Linked DNA regions of Homo sapiens: all the other regions are linked to region 2. The links come from fine-mapping of genetic effects on gene expression. A gene starts in region 2. Each other region holds a variant in brackets. All regions are shown on one strand. Distances are between the middles of the regions.

Evidence for each region. PIP is the estimated chance that this variant, and not a neighbour inherited with it, causes the effect. A credible set is the group of variants that fine-mapping cannot tell apart.
Region 1: its variant is the best candidate, but not a certain one, in a credible set for the expression of ITPK1 in monocytes (Quach 2016, PIP 0.86).
Region 3: its variant is the best candidate, but not a certain one, in a credible set for the expression of ITPK1 in whole blood (INTERVAL, PIP 0.62).

The regions. Positions count from the first base shown.
Region 1 is chr14:93,050,966-93,055,965 of GRCh38, reverse strand. The region is part of intron 3 of ITPK1 (inositol-tetrakisphosphate 1-kinase); the gene reads left to right. Among named protein-coding and RNA genes, the nearest start is that of ITPK1-AS1, 14 kb to the left of the region's middle. The variant G/T (reference allele first, on the strand shown) is at 2,632.
Region 2 is chr14:93,112,803-93,117,802 of GRCh38, reverse strand. ITPK1 (inositol-tetrakisphosphate 1-kinase) reads left to right here and starts at 1,878. Exons shown (of 11, transcript NM_014216.6): 1 at 1,878-2,031; 2 at 2,498-2,734. The coding sequence starts at 2,640.
Region 3 is chr14:93,060,831-93,065,830 of GRCh38, reverse strand. The region is part of intron 3 of ITPK1 (inositol-tetrakisphosphate 1-kinase); the gene reads left to right. Among named protein-coding and RNA genes, the nearest start is that of ITPK1-AS1, 4.1 kb to the left of the region's middle. The variant T/G (reference allele first, on the strand shown) is at 2,963.

The sequences.
Region 1 (5,000 bases), 62 kb after region 2:
TTCACCTCCCTAGCCGTGACCTCACTGGGTGCCCCGGCTGCTCCTCCCGTCTGCTGGGTGCTCAGACCCCAGCCAGCGCTCAGGAAGGTCTGTGGAGTCATTGCCACTCCAGTCAGCTGGCTTCACAAGGCTGAGACTTGAGTCTGGACTTCTTCCAAGAGCCTGTACTCTCTGCCCGGGGAGTGGTAGGGACCGCTGGGCACCTTCAGTTTCTACCTGAGGCCTGACTGGCAGTTGGGGCTAGGACCGGATAAGGATGGGTCCTTGGACTTTGGAAAGGCGCTGTGGGAGGGAGGCATGGGAGGGGACAGCTGAGAGGAGTCCCGAGCTCATGCGCAGGTGAGTGCAGAAGTTCAGGTGGCATTTGTATGTCCCTTGAGTATCTGTTCTGGGCCAGGCAGCACCGAGGCTCGGGAGAGTCCCAGTAAACAAACCCCAAATCCCTCTGCCTTCGTGGAGCACTTGTGTCTAGGTTGAGAGACTGAAAACAGAAAGAAGTGTGGGTGGCGAGTGAGGTGGGGGAGGGGGACTGGGAGAAAAATGAAGGAGAGTAAGGGGCTGAGGGCTGGTGTGGGATTTGGGAACATGGCTTGGTTAAAGCTGAGGAGATGCTGACCCTTTGGCCCTGCAAATCCTCCATGGCATGTACCCAAGAGAAAGGAGGGCTGTGTCCACCAAAAGACACGTGTAGAATGAATGTTCCCAGCAGCAGCATTCCTGATGGCCTCAAAGAGGAGACAGCACGCATGCCCATTGGCTGTAGAATGGGTACGTACATGACCTGTGTTATCATCTGGCCATGGAGTTGTATCGAATACAGCAGTGAGAATGAACCATGGATGAGTCCCATAGGCATGAAACGTGGCCAAAGATGCCAGGTGCAGAGGCGTATTCAGTGTCTGATTCCATTTACATGAAGATCTTGACCAGGCCAAGCTACTCTCTGGGGACAGGAGGCAGGCTGGCGGTCACCTTTGGGGACAAGGTGCCGGGTGGGAATGTGAGGAGCCTGCTGGTGTCTTGCAACTGTCCTCTCCTCAGTCTTCCTCTTGGGTGCCAGTTTGTGAAATATTCAAGCTGTTCACTTATGGCATGTCCTTCCTTTCTTATGTTATACTTCAGTGAAAGGCTTATAAAAGAAAGAAACAGAAGGGGAAAAAAGCCATGAGAGGCAGAGAGAGTGCTGTTTTCTGTAATATATGCCCTTAGATTCTCTAGAACATTGGTTCTCAAGCCACCGTACATATCAGGACATGGCCACCGCCCCTCCTGAAGCTCTCCTTGCCAGGAGTGATGCAGGCTCCGAGGATGAACCACCTGGTGAGAAGCCAGTAGCCCCAGCGGCATCTTTCTTGCTCTTCACTGGACTGGAGCCTCTCTGTAATCAAGGGAGTACATGTTCTGTACCCCCTGGCCCAGTGTCTAGTTAGAATAGACAGTGAGCATTTACAGATTGAATGGTTTTTTGTTTTTTTCCCAATGGTTTTAGCTTGTCTTTGGGAATATAGGGTCTGTTTCTGGGCATGGAGAAACAGGGTTCCCTCCTGTGCTTTAAGTCTAACCTCCAAGCCAGAGAGGTGGTACTGGCAGGAGATAAGACCACCCGTTGTCTGGATGCTGTTTTCCATGCAGCAGACATGGGCTCCAGTTTCTGTCAATCAGTTTATTAAAACCTGCGTTTATTACTTGTTTGCCCTGTGCCAGGCACTGGGCTGTGTCTTAGTCCAGCCCCACAGTACCCTGTTTACAGATGACGTCAAAGCAGCTACACGTGGGTGACTGGCTCGGTTCACTTGCTAGAAGTGGGGACTCTACCTCTAAGTGGGGTGAATCCCAGGCTAGCACTTGACCCACTGACAGGGTGGAGGGGATGTGGGGAAAGAAGATGTTCAGTCAGGGTTGGATGCATGAAGTGCTGGGTGGGCTGCCAGGAAGTGCTTCTAAGCCTTTGCTCTTCGCTTCCTTCCCCGACCCCATCTCTCCCTACTTCAGTCTGACTTCCCTCCATCTAGAATCTTCCCAGATGACTCCACAACTGGGTAGTTTTACCTGCTGTTTCTGAAGCCTGGCTGTCCCGTCTACCTCCCAAACATCAGCCCAGGCTCCAGAGACTACTGGAATCACAGTCACCTGGGAGATTGATTTTTAATAGACTCTATTTTAGAGCAGTTTTGGGTTCACAGCAAAATTGAGAGGAAGGTGCAGAGACTTCCCGTATCTGCCCTACCCTGACACACATGCAGCCCCCCTTACTGTCAACATCCCACGCTAGCCTGGAACATTTGCTACAATCAGTGAACCTCCCTGGGTGCATCAGGATCACCTGAAGTCCCCAGTGTGCATAGGGCTCACTCTTGGTGTTGCACATTCTGTGGGTTTGGACACATGCATAGTGACCTGCATCTACCATTACCATACCATACAGAGCAGCTTCACTACCGTGAAAGTCCTCTGCACCGCCTGTTCTTTTTAAAGCACTTCTAAAAAGAAGTGCTGATGGGGTGGCATCAATTATATCCAGATCTCTGGGGCAGCTCTTGAGCACTGGCTGTCATGAGGCCCCCAGGACAACAGGCAGCCGGGAGAGGGGCGGGTGGGGAACCACTGGATTGAAGTAATGGTTCTCAAACT[G/T]GAGTGTGCACTGGAACCCCCAGGGAGCACATCTTCAAACAGGTGGCTGGCCCCATTCCCAGGGTCTCTGAACCAGTAGGTCTGAGGGGGCTGAGAATCCACATCTGTAACAGGTATCCAGGTGATGTTGACCCTGCTTGTGAGCCCCTCTGTCTGAGAACCACTGGTTTTTTTTTATTATTATTTTTTATTTTATTTTTATTTTTTATTATACTTTAAGTTTTAGGGTACATGTGCACAACATGCAGGTTTGTTACATATGTATACATGTGCCATGTTGGTGTGCTGCACCCATTAACTCGTCATTTAACATTAGGTATATCTCCTAATGCTATCCCTCCCCCTTCCCCCCTCCCCCCACCCCACAATAGGTCCTGGTGTGTGATGTTCCCCTTCCTGTGTCCATGTGGAGAACCACTGGTTTTAAACAGTGGTGACGAAAGGTGTGGTTGGGCCAGATGTGCCTGCTCAGAAAGCCACCAGAGCGCTTTCCAAGTCTTTGGGGCATCTGGGAGATTGTGCCCGGCCCCTTTCCCAGTTCTGAGTGAGGGACTGAACCCTGGGATGGGAGATGTAGGGCTGTTTCCTGTACCACCAGCCCCTTGGGGACCTGGGTTTGGAGGGAGGGTGGTGGTGCGGGCAGGTATTATATTGAATATAGAGTGAGCCAGAAGGCCGGTGAGGCTTGGGGGCGAACTTCCAGCCCACTGAGTCACTCTCAGGCCGTCTCTGGCCCCACTGAAGGATCTCCCGTCCCCCTACCCCACTGGGGGTTCCTTTGGCCCTCACAGAAGGACAGATAAGGCCCCCAGGGTAAGAACAACCCAGACCAGGCCTCCCTGGGTCAGAGAGTCAGCCAGGGCCTGGTATCGAGACTTAGACCTTGGAGAGCTTGGGATTATGGGAGAATCAGGCTGTTCTTCAGACAACAGGCCGCCCTAGATGCCTGGCGTCTGTTGTAATAAAAGACCTTTAGTGGAAACTAAGTCTGTTGCCTTTGGCCTCCTAGGAGCCCAGCAATAAAATCAGTGTAAATAGAGCTAACATTTGGGAGTGGTTTATAAAGCACTTGAAAAAAATCCCTCATATAAACCCAAAGACAGTCCTACAAGCTGCAGGGACAATTAATTATCCTACCTTTTGGATATGGAAATTGAAGTTGAGAAAGGTTAAATAACTTGCCCATGGTCACAGATCTTTTAAATGGCAGAGCTGGGATTTGGCCTGGGGACTCTGCCACCCAAATCTCTGTGCTTTCTGCTGTCTTATTCCCCTTCCACCACGTGGCCCCTCCAGGCAGAGATGAAGGCGCTCCCCTGGTGCAAGCTCCAGCTACAAAAGGGTGAAGATGGTGGTGCCCTCAGAGTGGAATGTGCTGGAATTTCTCACAACAGAGTTGTTCTTGAAATAGGTACTTATTCTTGGCATTTCTTAGCCAAAAACTGCAGAGGTGAGTACCCCATAGCCATAACAGTGGCAGGGATTAGGGAGTGAGTTAGCGTTACAATGGAAGGGCTTCCGCCCAATCTGCTGTCTTCCATTCCCCATGCTGAGACATTTGGAGGCACAGGGTGGTTTCCGGTCTCATTGAATTGGCTTTCACGCTTGGCTATGAGGCACCCCTAGGGGTTCCTTGAAGGGGTACCTGCTTTTCAAGGGGGATGAGTTGCTCACCACTCCCTTCACCTGAGCAGCTCTTTCTTTTTTTTTTTTTTCTTTTGAGACAGAGTTTCATCCATCACCCAGGCTGGAGTGCAGTGGCATGATCTGGACTCACTGCAATCTCCGCCTCCCAGGCTCAAGCGATTCCCCTGCCTCAGCCACCTGAATAGCTGGGATTACAGGCATGCGCCACCAAGCCTGCCTGGTTTTTGTATTTTTAGGAGAGACAGGGTTTCACTATGTTGCCCAGGCTGGTCTCAAACTCCTGAGTTCAAGCGATCCGCCCGCCTTGGCCTTCCAAAGTGCAGGGATTACAGGTGTGAGCCACCTTTCCCAGCCACTCTCTCTTGATCTGTGTTTGATCTGGGGTCTGCATGTTAGATTTCATTTCAGGAAAGACATTTGAGGTCAGAGAGAGTTTGAAAACCATGGTGTCTGGGGCAGAATCCTGGGATATTCAGCTCCCCCATGCCTGGGAAATTGAGGCATGTGTATGTGCAGAGAGCTGTGGGCCTGCCAGGTGCGTGATGACTGTTGGCTGTCAGGTCCTGGGGGTGGAGTGTGGCCATCACCGTTTGATTGGTTCCTTGTCCGTCAGGTGTCCTTCTGAGTGCCCAGGCAGGCCGGGCCCTGTGCTGAGCACTGGGCACATAGCTGAGAGCAAAACTGCCACATCCCGGTCCTTAAGGAGCTTCCAGTTTAGTGGG
Region 2 (5,000 bases):
TTTTTACTCCCTTAGCCGCCTTCTTTTTTTTTTTTTTTTTTTGAGACGGAGTCTCACTCTGTTGCCCAGGCTAGAGTGCAGTGGCACGATCTCAGCTCACTGCCAGCTCTGCCTCCCAGGTTCACGCCATTCTCCTGCCTTAGCCTCCCAAGTAGCTGGGACTACAGGCGCCCGCCACCACGCCCGGCTAATTTTTTGTATTTTTAGTAGAGACAGGGTTTCACCGTGTTAGCCAGGATGATCTCAATCTCCTGACCTCATGATGTGCCCACCTCGGCCTCCCAAAGTGCTGGGATTACAGGCATGAGCCACCATGCGCAGCCTCCCTTAGCCTTCTTTTATCCATCTTGTGCCTCGGCCCTAGGGGTCCTTGCTATGATCTTCCCTTTATCCAGCTTTCCATGTCCCCCCCAGGAGCCAGGCATTCTAAGCCACAGAGCTGACCCTGGAACCTGTCACCACTTACCTTCTAGGCTCCCATGGCCTATGAAACTCGCAGTACCCTTGCCTAAGGCATGCAGTGCCCGTCCCTAGCTGGCCCCCTGGAGGAGTCCTGTTTCCCACCCATCGTCTTTTCCACTCTCCATCCATCCGTTTTCTCTACCTTGTTAAAGAAAAAAACTAATCAGATTCTCGTTAAAGATGGCAGGGAAGCCAGGCGGGGTGGCTCAGGTCTACAATCCCAGCACTTTGGGAGGCCCAGGTGGGAGGACAGCTTGAGGCCAGGAGTTCGAGACCTGCCTGGGCAACACAGTGTAGTCCCAGCTGCTCGGGAGGCTGAGGTGGGAGGATCAGTTTAGCAGGGGTGTTCGAGGCTGCAGTGAGCTATGACTGCACCATTGCACTCCAGCCTGGGCAGCATAGAGAGATCCTTGTCTTTCTTTTTTTTTTGAGACGGAGTTTCTTAATGTAGGCCGGCCAGGGTGATCACATACCAAGCGTGGAGATATTCTTGACAGCAGGATTCTGGCTAAAACTGGACTAAGAAGGCCAAGGACAGAGCCCAAGGTCGGGGCCTGGTCAGAAAGAGGTCTCGGAGGAGCCTGACTCAAGTGTGATCAAGGGAAGTCTTGGTCACCCGCTGGCAACTTGGCTTTTTCTTGTCTCCCAGCCTCAATTCAAGCTCATCCCCCTTCCCTGCTCCATCAAAATCTCCTTGATTTCCAAGGCCAGCTTCAGTGTCTCCTCTCAAACTTTTCTGAGCCTTCCCTCCACGGGAATCCATTTTTCCTGCCTGGGCCTGGGGAGAGAAGTCCATTTCTCCTTCCCAAACCCAGAGACCATTGAGGCAGGAAAGCTCCCTGGCTGCCCCATAGGGCAGGGCAGGGTAGGCGGGGTTTAGTGACTCCCCGGCGCCGACGCTGACCCGCACCCCTGAGGAAGGGGTCTCCGGGGACGGCCGCTGTTGTCGCTGTCGCCTCCAGTCCCCGCCCCTTCCCCCCTCAGTGAAGGGGACCTAGAGTGAGAACTGGTGGTCACGTCCTACGCCTAGGAGGGCCCCTGGGTGTTCACCCACCCCCCCGGGGGGCCCCATCCTGGGCCAGGGTCCGCTTCCTCGAGGGAAGGGGCGAATTCCTGGAAGGTCTCCTTCCGGGCGCAGTTGCAATGGATTGCCTTGGGGGTGCTGAACCCTGCTGGGGGTACAGAGACGTTTCCGAAACTCAGCGGCTCGGTCGCCCCCAAAGGCCAGGCGGAACACACGCCCACACCGCGGCTCCCTTCCCGAAGTAAGACCGCCGGGCCACGGCCGCCCCCAGGAAGCCCCGCGCCCCGCACCCCACACCCGGGGACACAAACAGGCGCCGGGTAGCCGCGAGGGCCGGCGCGGCGCCTTTAAGAGGCGGCGGGCGGCGCTGCCCCCTGGCGGCCGCCCCGCCGCTTCCTCGCCGCCGCGGGCTCAAGCGGGGCGGCCGGGCCAGCGCGGGGCGGCGGCGGGCAGGGGCGGCGAGTGCGCGGGCGCTCGCCGCCGCCCTTCTCGGCGGGCAGCGCGCGAGGACCAGGCCGAGGAGGAAGTGGCGGCGGCGGCGGCGGGTGAGGATCTCTGGCCGGGCCGAGTGGCCGCGTGCGCCCCGCCGGGGTCCAAGCGCGCCCAGGGGTTACGGCCCGGCTGGGAACATCAGAGGGCGAGGACCCGGGCGGGAGGAGGAGGGAGGAAGGGCTCGGAGGCCGCGCTTCTGCCGCCGCCTGAGGGCGTGTGGCTCGGGCCCGCGCGGCGGGAGGGCGGGCAGGGCGGGGGCGGTGTCTGCGGAGGCCCGGCTTCCCCTCCTGCGGGCCCTGGCCCCAGCTCCGACTCAGACTCAGGCTCAGCCGTGCCCCAGCCTCAGCCGGCAGGCCGGGCGGCGCGGCGCTCGCGAGCCGGTGGGCGGGCGGGCGAGCCCGCAGGCGGCGGGGGCGTGGGCGGTGGCAGCTTGGCCCAGCCAGTGGCCTTCCGCGCTGAGCGCCGCTCCCTCCTCCCGGCCGCCCGCCGCGCCCCGCCCCGCTCCGCTCCGCGCGGCAGGACTGCGCGCCCCAGCTCCGATCCCCGTTCCGCGTCCCCGCCGCCGGGAGGAGGTGCCCACTCGCTCGCGGCGCGCGCCGGCCGCCAGACTCGGCCTGTGGGCGATTTCCTCCGGACCCAGGCTCCCCGCCCGAGGAGGAAGATGCAGACCTTTCTGAAAGGGAAGAGAGTTGGCTACTGGCTGAGCGAGAAGAAAATCAAGAAGCTGAATTTCCAGGCCTTCGCCGAGCTGTGCAGGTAAGGAGGGACGCGGCGCCGGCGCCCGGGGACCCCCGGCCCGAGCCCGGTGACCCCCGGCCCGAGCCCGGTGCAGCCTCATTAGTTGTTTTGGGAGATCGGAGCCAAACGGGAAGAAGCGGCGCGCGGGGAGACTGAGTCCGAGCAGCCAGGTGGCGGTGGCGGCCGCCGGCCGCGTTCCAGGGAAGCGGTGGCCGGTGCGGGCGAGGTGGCACGGACCGGGGCGTTCAGGTGCACTGTGACCCGGCTGGGGAGGCCCCCAGCAGCCCAGGGCGCGGTGGGAGTTCTACTGAGGGTTGCGGAGGGACCTGGGAAATCGGGGCATCCACGCTGTGGGGTAAGGGCTTGAGGGTACTTTTGGACCGGAGTGTTTTTCTTCCTTCGTCCCCTTCCCTTTCATGAAGAAAGGGCACCCACGTTTGTGGACCACCTACTATGTGCCCCGCGTGTGCTCGGCTCTTGAGGCTGTCATTGCATATCATGAGGTTAAGCCCAGTTGAAGCGAGTAGCAATTCTTGGCATGTATGTGGTGATTTGCTGTCTCATTAGAGCCTCGCAGCAGCCCTGCAAATTGGCCAGGGTGGTGATTCTGGGCCACCTGTCTGAGAACGGGGACCGATCGGCAGAGGAGCGGGGTACCTAGCTTGGGGTCCCGCAGCTAGGGAGTGGCTGGTGCGTAGAAAGTGCTGGGTAAATGCCCGTGGTGTGGAGTGGCCTTCTGCCATCTGGGCTGTGTGCCCCTGCTCCCACCATGCTGGTGCTCCTTGGCGGAGTCTCCGGTGTTTAACAGATCACGTTCTTAATAAATTACAGAACTACTGAGTCTTGGGTCAGGTAGGCCTTCCCTTGCTCCACAACTGTAGCTTTGCCTCTGAGAAGCAGTTAAGCCCTTTTCTCAATGCAAGCCTAAGAGAATCTAGCTCTGAAAGCCTTTTGCAAACTCCAGGTGGAAACCTTTTGTGATGCAGCTTGTTAGACTGATTTTTGAAAATGGGCTCTACTTGCATTTTTGTCCCTGTGGGGGCCCCACACATCTTGGAGAATTGAACAGTTGGGTTTCCGTAACCCCTGGTGCTCCTGGGGGCCCGTGGCTGGTCTGAGCTGGCATGCGCAGGTGAGCCTGGCAGCACCTCTGTGTGCCTCATGCCTTTCCCAAGGGCCTGCTGCTCCTTTGCCCCGTGCAAGCCCCGCAGGCGCTCTTCCTGCAGCCAGAGGGGCACAGCTTGTACAGGATAGTGCCTGGTTCTTTATCCCTTGGTCTGGGGATGGGGTTGGCTGCCTTCTCCCAGGCCGGTTTCCCTAGAAGACAGGCTCTTCATGATCAATAGGGCATGCAGAGTGGCCCCAGCAATTCATGAAGAAATCAGGAGGAGCTCGAAGCCAGAGCTTTGAAAATGAGTCTTAGGACCCTTGGAACATTACAAAAGGGTACTTGAACGTTGTACCGCGGATACACTCACTTGTGGGAAGGGCATTCTAAGACACTAAAGAAATTTGGAGCAGCTGCTTTGGCATGTTCTCGAAGTCCAGTTCTGATGTGAGGCACCGGAGCTCCCCCTGCAGTCATGTAAGACTTGGGAAATCCCAGCGAATACCTCGCACCCTTTGTACTGCTGTCTGTATTTATGTCATCTTGTGTCTGCAACTCAAGCTTGAGGCTTGTCATTGGGTTGGCTTGTTTTGCTTGGTAATTAGGAGGCTCTCGCAAAATATTCTTCGCCGAGACTCACAACTAGGTCCTCGTGCTGGACCTGCAGATTGGCTTGACCTTGTAGACATTCTTCCTTTAAAGGGGTGGGAGGTTCAGAGCAAGCTATGCTATCAACGTTCTGGGGAGTAGAGCATTACTTTCTCTGAAAGAGTTGTTGTCTTCAAAGTCTAGTTGCCTTCCTTTGGCCAAAATATTGGCTTCAAAGAAGGCAGAAGTCATCAGGGCCATTCTAGAACCCGAGGAAGCCCACTTTGTGTTTTCACTAGGGAAGCTTTAGATATTTTATCACTTAAGCCTAAGAAGGAAAAGAAAACACCAAAGAGTTTTTCCGTTTCTTATTTATTACTTTCAGGGCAGTGCCCCCTGGTGGCCACATTTCTATACTGGCTGCAAAATGCTGCAACTGTTGAGCCAGTGACCAGGGAGCCCCGTGAGGTTGTTTTGTTTGGTGTGAGGGCCAATGAGACTTTAGTGGCTGAGAGACAGTGCAAAGGACATTATCATGTTTTCCACATTCAGAATCTGGGGGCGCAGGGCTTCTGTACTGACGACGGG
Region 3 (5,000 bases), 52 kb after region 2:
GTCCCAGCATCTAGAACCATTTCTCTGCTCCAGAGTCTCAAGTTCTAGGTTATTTCTGGTTTGCTGTTACTAACAGTCCTGCCCTGGGTGTCTCTGGACCTAAATCTTTGGGGACCTAAGTCACATCTCAGGCTGTTTCATTGGGTTATGGTCTAGAAGTGACTTCAGGATTTTGTTGCTAAAGAAGAAGGGGAGAATGGGGGACAGGTTGGGCTGCAGCTAGTCAGCTGTGTCCAGCACACTTGGGCCCTGGACTTAGAACTGGACAGGTTACTTGCCCCCTCTAAGCCTCAGTTTATTCTTCTGTAAAATGGAAATAATAATGGACCCAGTCTCATAGAGTTCCAGGAGTGAGGTCATGCAGATAAGGAACAGCACAGAACCTGTTTACCTAGTTTGTCCTCAGAAGGAGCTGTTTGTGATTATTTACTGGTGCCACCTCCACCACCATCATTGTCATCCTCAGTGGCCCAGGGAAGCGTGAGTCTGAATGAGGTGTGTTGTGTAGTTAAATGATGCGATGGGTAGATGAGCCAAAATGAAAGGATCTCTTCTGTTTGATTTATTTTCATGAGTAAAAAAGCCAGAAATGTCTGTAGCATAAGTTATGTCTGTTTGGTTTGGCTAAAGCAGGGCTGACCAGGGATGAGTCTCCTGCTGTGAGTGAGTGAGGTCCCAGCTTGTCCTCTGGGGTTAGAGCAGATTTTGCTCTGGCTGGGGTGCATTTGGGGGCATGGGCTGATTTATGTTTTCCTTCTTTCTGGATCTCCCCAGGTCTAGCCATGATGGGGTGAAGGCATCACCCCCAGGGAGTGCTGACCCCTGACCCTAGCCCCATGACCCCCTCCCGTGCTAGTTCATTATGGGCAGGGGAGGTCCCAGGGATTCCCCGCACACTCATCGTGACTTTTCCAAAAGCTGTGTAAATCCAGAGTTGTAACTTGGCTCTGTCTTTCTCCTTCCCCTTGATCCACCCTCAGCTCAAGAACTCCCCTGGGAAGCACAGTGGCTCCCGTCTTTGCCTCAAGTTCTCTGATGTTCTGCACAAATGGTAGGCAGAGACAGCCCTTTCAGGGACCTGATTGCCCTGGTGTCTAGTTCTCCTTTCACAGGCCTGTTTTCCAGCTCGACTGTCAATCTGAGTCTTTCTCTTTTTGAGCTTTATGCAATGGCCTTAGAGTATACCCTATAAGGAGATCCCGGCTTGCTGGTGCCCGGCCCTGCAGCTGTGTCCCAGAAACTTGGCGGTGGTGCATGGGGCTCACTCAGCACTTCTACAGAAGCCGCCTGGGGTGGCTCCCAGGGTTCCGGTGGGAATGGGGTACAGAGGCCTGAGAGGGGGCTTTGATCAGGTGTCCTGGGGGAACATTTAGAGCTCCTGGATTCTCTGCAGGAAGGCCACCAGCAGCCAGGCATGATGGCCTGTGTCTGTAATCCCAACACTTTGAGAGGCCAAGGCAGGAGAATTGCTTGAAGCCTGGAGTTCAAGACCAGCCTGGGCGACATAGTGAGACCCCATCTCTACGAAAATTTTAATTTTTATTTTTTGAGATGGAGTCTCGCTCTGTCGCCCAGGCTGGAGTGCAGTGGCGCGACCTCGGCTCACTGCAAGCTCTGCCTCCCACGTTCACGCCATTCTTCTGCCTCAGCCTCCCAAGTAGCTGGGACTACAGGTGCCCGCCACCACGCCCGGCTAATTTTTTGTATTTTTGGTAGAGACAGGGTTTCACCATGTTAGCCAGGATGGTCTCAATCTCCTGACCTCGTGATCCACCCACCTTGGCCTCCCAAAGTGCTGGGATTACAGGTGTGAGCCACCATGCCCGGCCAATTTTTTTTTTTTAAAGGTCACCAGCCCTGTTGTCTGGGCAGTAAGCACCTAGTAGGATTGCTTCAGAGTTCTAGAATGCGCATGTAAAAATTCCAAAGTGCGTTTGGCGTCTGGGCTGGGCTTCTATGAGCAGCCCAGGCAGCAGCAGTGAGAACTCCTGTGTGTGCCTCGTCTACTGAGTGCCAGGGTTAGTGCCCCACTTGCCAGGTGAGAGGACTGAGGCTCACACAGGTGGGCTTGTCACAGCCTAGCATGTGAGCTGTGGAGCTGGGATTGGATTCTAGAGGTGTGATGGCATAGCCAGTGCCTCTTCTGCTCCGAAGACTGCCTGCCTGGTGAGAGTCCAGTGACTCCTCCCTAGTTCCAGCTCCATCCCTCCAAGGCTGTGCAGTCCTGGGTAGTGGCACAACCTCTCTGAGGCCCATCTACCAGATGGTGATGAGATGGATGATTGAGACGAGGGGAGGGCAAGTGAGAAGGCCTTCTAAAACTCAGGCCCTCGTAGGAGAAGCGTGGGTAGCCTGAGGTCAGGGACAGGGCTTAGTGTGCTGTGTGGGGCTGTGGGGAGTGGGAAGCTCACTGGTTTTCTGGCTCCTGAGATGACTCGAGGGGTCTTGTGAAGCTCACACCCCTGTCTCACTGGGCAGGAGTTTGGCCTCCACTGTGGGTCTCTGCCATCTCAGGTGGGTGGGGGACCAGGGGTCCCTGGGCAGGAGGGTGTGGGTCCTGGCTTGGAGGCAGACCTTGGCTCACTCCCTTCCTTGCCCAGGCAGTATTTTTGCCGCAGGCCCTGCCAAGTAGAAATAAGTTATTTACAGTGTTTTGACAGGATCATCGGCAGCCGGGATGGGCAAGGATGCCTTTGGGACTGAGCTAATGGCCAAGGAGTGGGGCTTGGAGAAGGGTCTGGCGTGGGAGAGAGATGGGAGATGGGGGTGGGGTGGGGGCGCACATTTACTGAACTTGTTAAATCTTGACAAATGCCAGGCCTGGCCCTCCCTTAAGCCAGGGCTTTGGGGCCTGGTGAGGGCAGGACTTGATGAGTTTTCCTGTCGACCAAATATTCCGCCGGATCGCTCAGGACCCTCGGTTATTTTTGCTGTCTGAGCCCTCAGTGCCTTCCTTTGTCCA[T/G]CAGGGACAAGGACCCCTGCCCACCCAGTATATCTTCTTGGGGAGAAGATGAAACGCCTTGGTGTATGGTAGGCCAGGCCCTGGCCTTGACTGTGAGCCTGGCAGCCCCTGCAGCCCCTCACACTGGGCCACCATTGACCTGCTTTACGACTTCAAATAGCACAGACCTGCCGTGGGACCAGGGCCTCCTGCTAGTGCCTGACCTCTGTCCTGCATGATGTTCTGACCCTCCAGAAGCAGGTTTGAAAGTGCCTTTCAGGAAGGTCTGGAGAGCCTCCTGTGTAGCTTGTGGGAACAAAATGTGTTACTCCCTAGCCGAAGGATAACCAGCACACTAAAATGTGAATAAAGTGTGACTTTATTCATGTCCTTTGAGCATAAAAATGGCACACACACTGATGCATTAAAAAAACTTTTTTTTTTAATTAAACTTTTTTTAGAGATGGGGTTTTGCTCTGTCACTCAGGCTGGAGTGTAGTGGTGCGATCATAGCTTGCTGCAGCTTTGAACTCCTGGGCTCAAGCAATCCTCCCACCTCAGCCTTCTTAGTAGCTGGGACCATGGTGTGCACCAACATCTTTGATGCAGTTTTTTTTTTGAGATGGAATCTCGCTCTGTCGCCCAGGCTGGAGTGCAATGGCTCGATCTTGGCTCGCTGCAACCTCCGCCTCCCAGGTTCAAGCGATTTTCCTGTCTCAGACCCCAGAGTAACTGAGATTACAGGCACGCGCCACCATGCCTGGCTAATTTTTGTATTTTTAGTAGTGATGGGGTTTCACCGTGTTGGCCAGGGTGGTCTTGAACTCCTGACCTCAAGTGATCTGCCCGCCTCGGCTTCTAAAAGTGTTGGGATTACAGGCGCGAGCCACCAGCCTTGACATAGTTGTAAACAAAGTTGTGGTTCTGTTGTAATCTGTTCCCACAAACACACTTAGCATTCTCTTAGAGCTTCCCCCTTTGTTAAATGTCTACTTAGGCTTGCTTTTTAAATGACTGCATAATATTATCTGATTGTAACTGAAGTTCTTTGATTCCCTTGGTTGATGCTGACCATGGTTCTGGTCTGTCACCTTTATAAATAGTATTGTGATAAACATCCACTTTTGATACTGTTTGGGCAAGCCTGTGATGATTATTTCTTTGGGTTACATAAGTAAGTTGTATATATTGTTTTTGTAGTCTGTAGGAGGAATATGTACTTCTTGGTGAAATAAACAAACCCCTGCATTTTGGGGAATTACAGAAAGGGAAGGTCTTGTGGGAGTTTGTGCTTCTAGATTTGAATGCTGTGTTATCACCTGTGCACCAGGCACGCATACAGCAACTCATTTCTCTCTCATGTGCCCTCCCTCCCCTCCTTTCTCACTCCTGCCCCAGACCCACTCTCTCTGCCCATGAGGCTGGGGGCTGTAGCCTAGCCGCAGCTGTGCCCATGGACTTTTCTCCCCTTGCAATTGTTCCTCACCCCAGGGAGAGGAGGAAGGAGTGGTGGGCTCTGGAGGAGGTGGGTGGTCCCCGGGTGGCCTCTGGTCTTGCTTCTTCCCAGCACCGAGGGTGCTTCAGCCTCCTTGCCTGGAAAAAGGGGTTGTCGTAACACCAACCTCTAAGGTTAAGAAGGGTAATTGAGATACAGTGTCAAAGTACTTATCACACAGCCTGGCCCCAGATCTGTGTTGAGGAATCTGCAGCTAGTGGTGGAGGGTTAGGAGTCATTTGGGGAATTGCAGTCCGGAAAGTTAATTTCTGAAGAGTATCAAACACCAGCTTGCATGTTAAGTTGTCTTTTGGAGTGATCCCTCCAGTGATTCCCTAGTGGTATGGAGCCAGTCCAGATTTGGAGTGGAACTTTTGTTGTGGGTGTGGGTCACTGTTCCAGGGAACCCCAGCTACCTGACCTTGAACCAAAATCCTTGTCATTGTGGAGCCTGTGTCCCCCTCTGCCTTGGACTTTTTTACTTTTATCTTCCTAGTTCTCATAATAGCTCTGTGAGATGGGATCTATTTATTATTCTCCCTATTTTGCAGATGAGGAAACTGA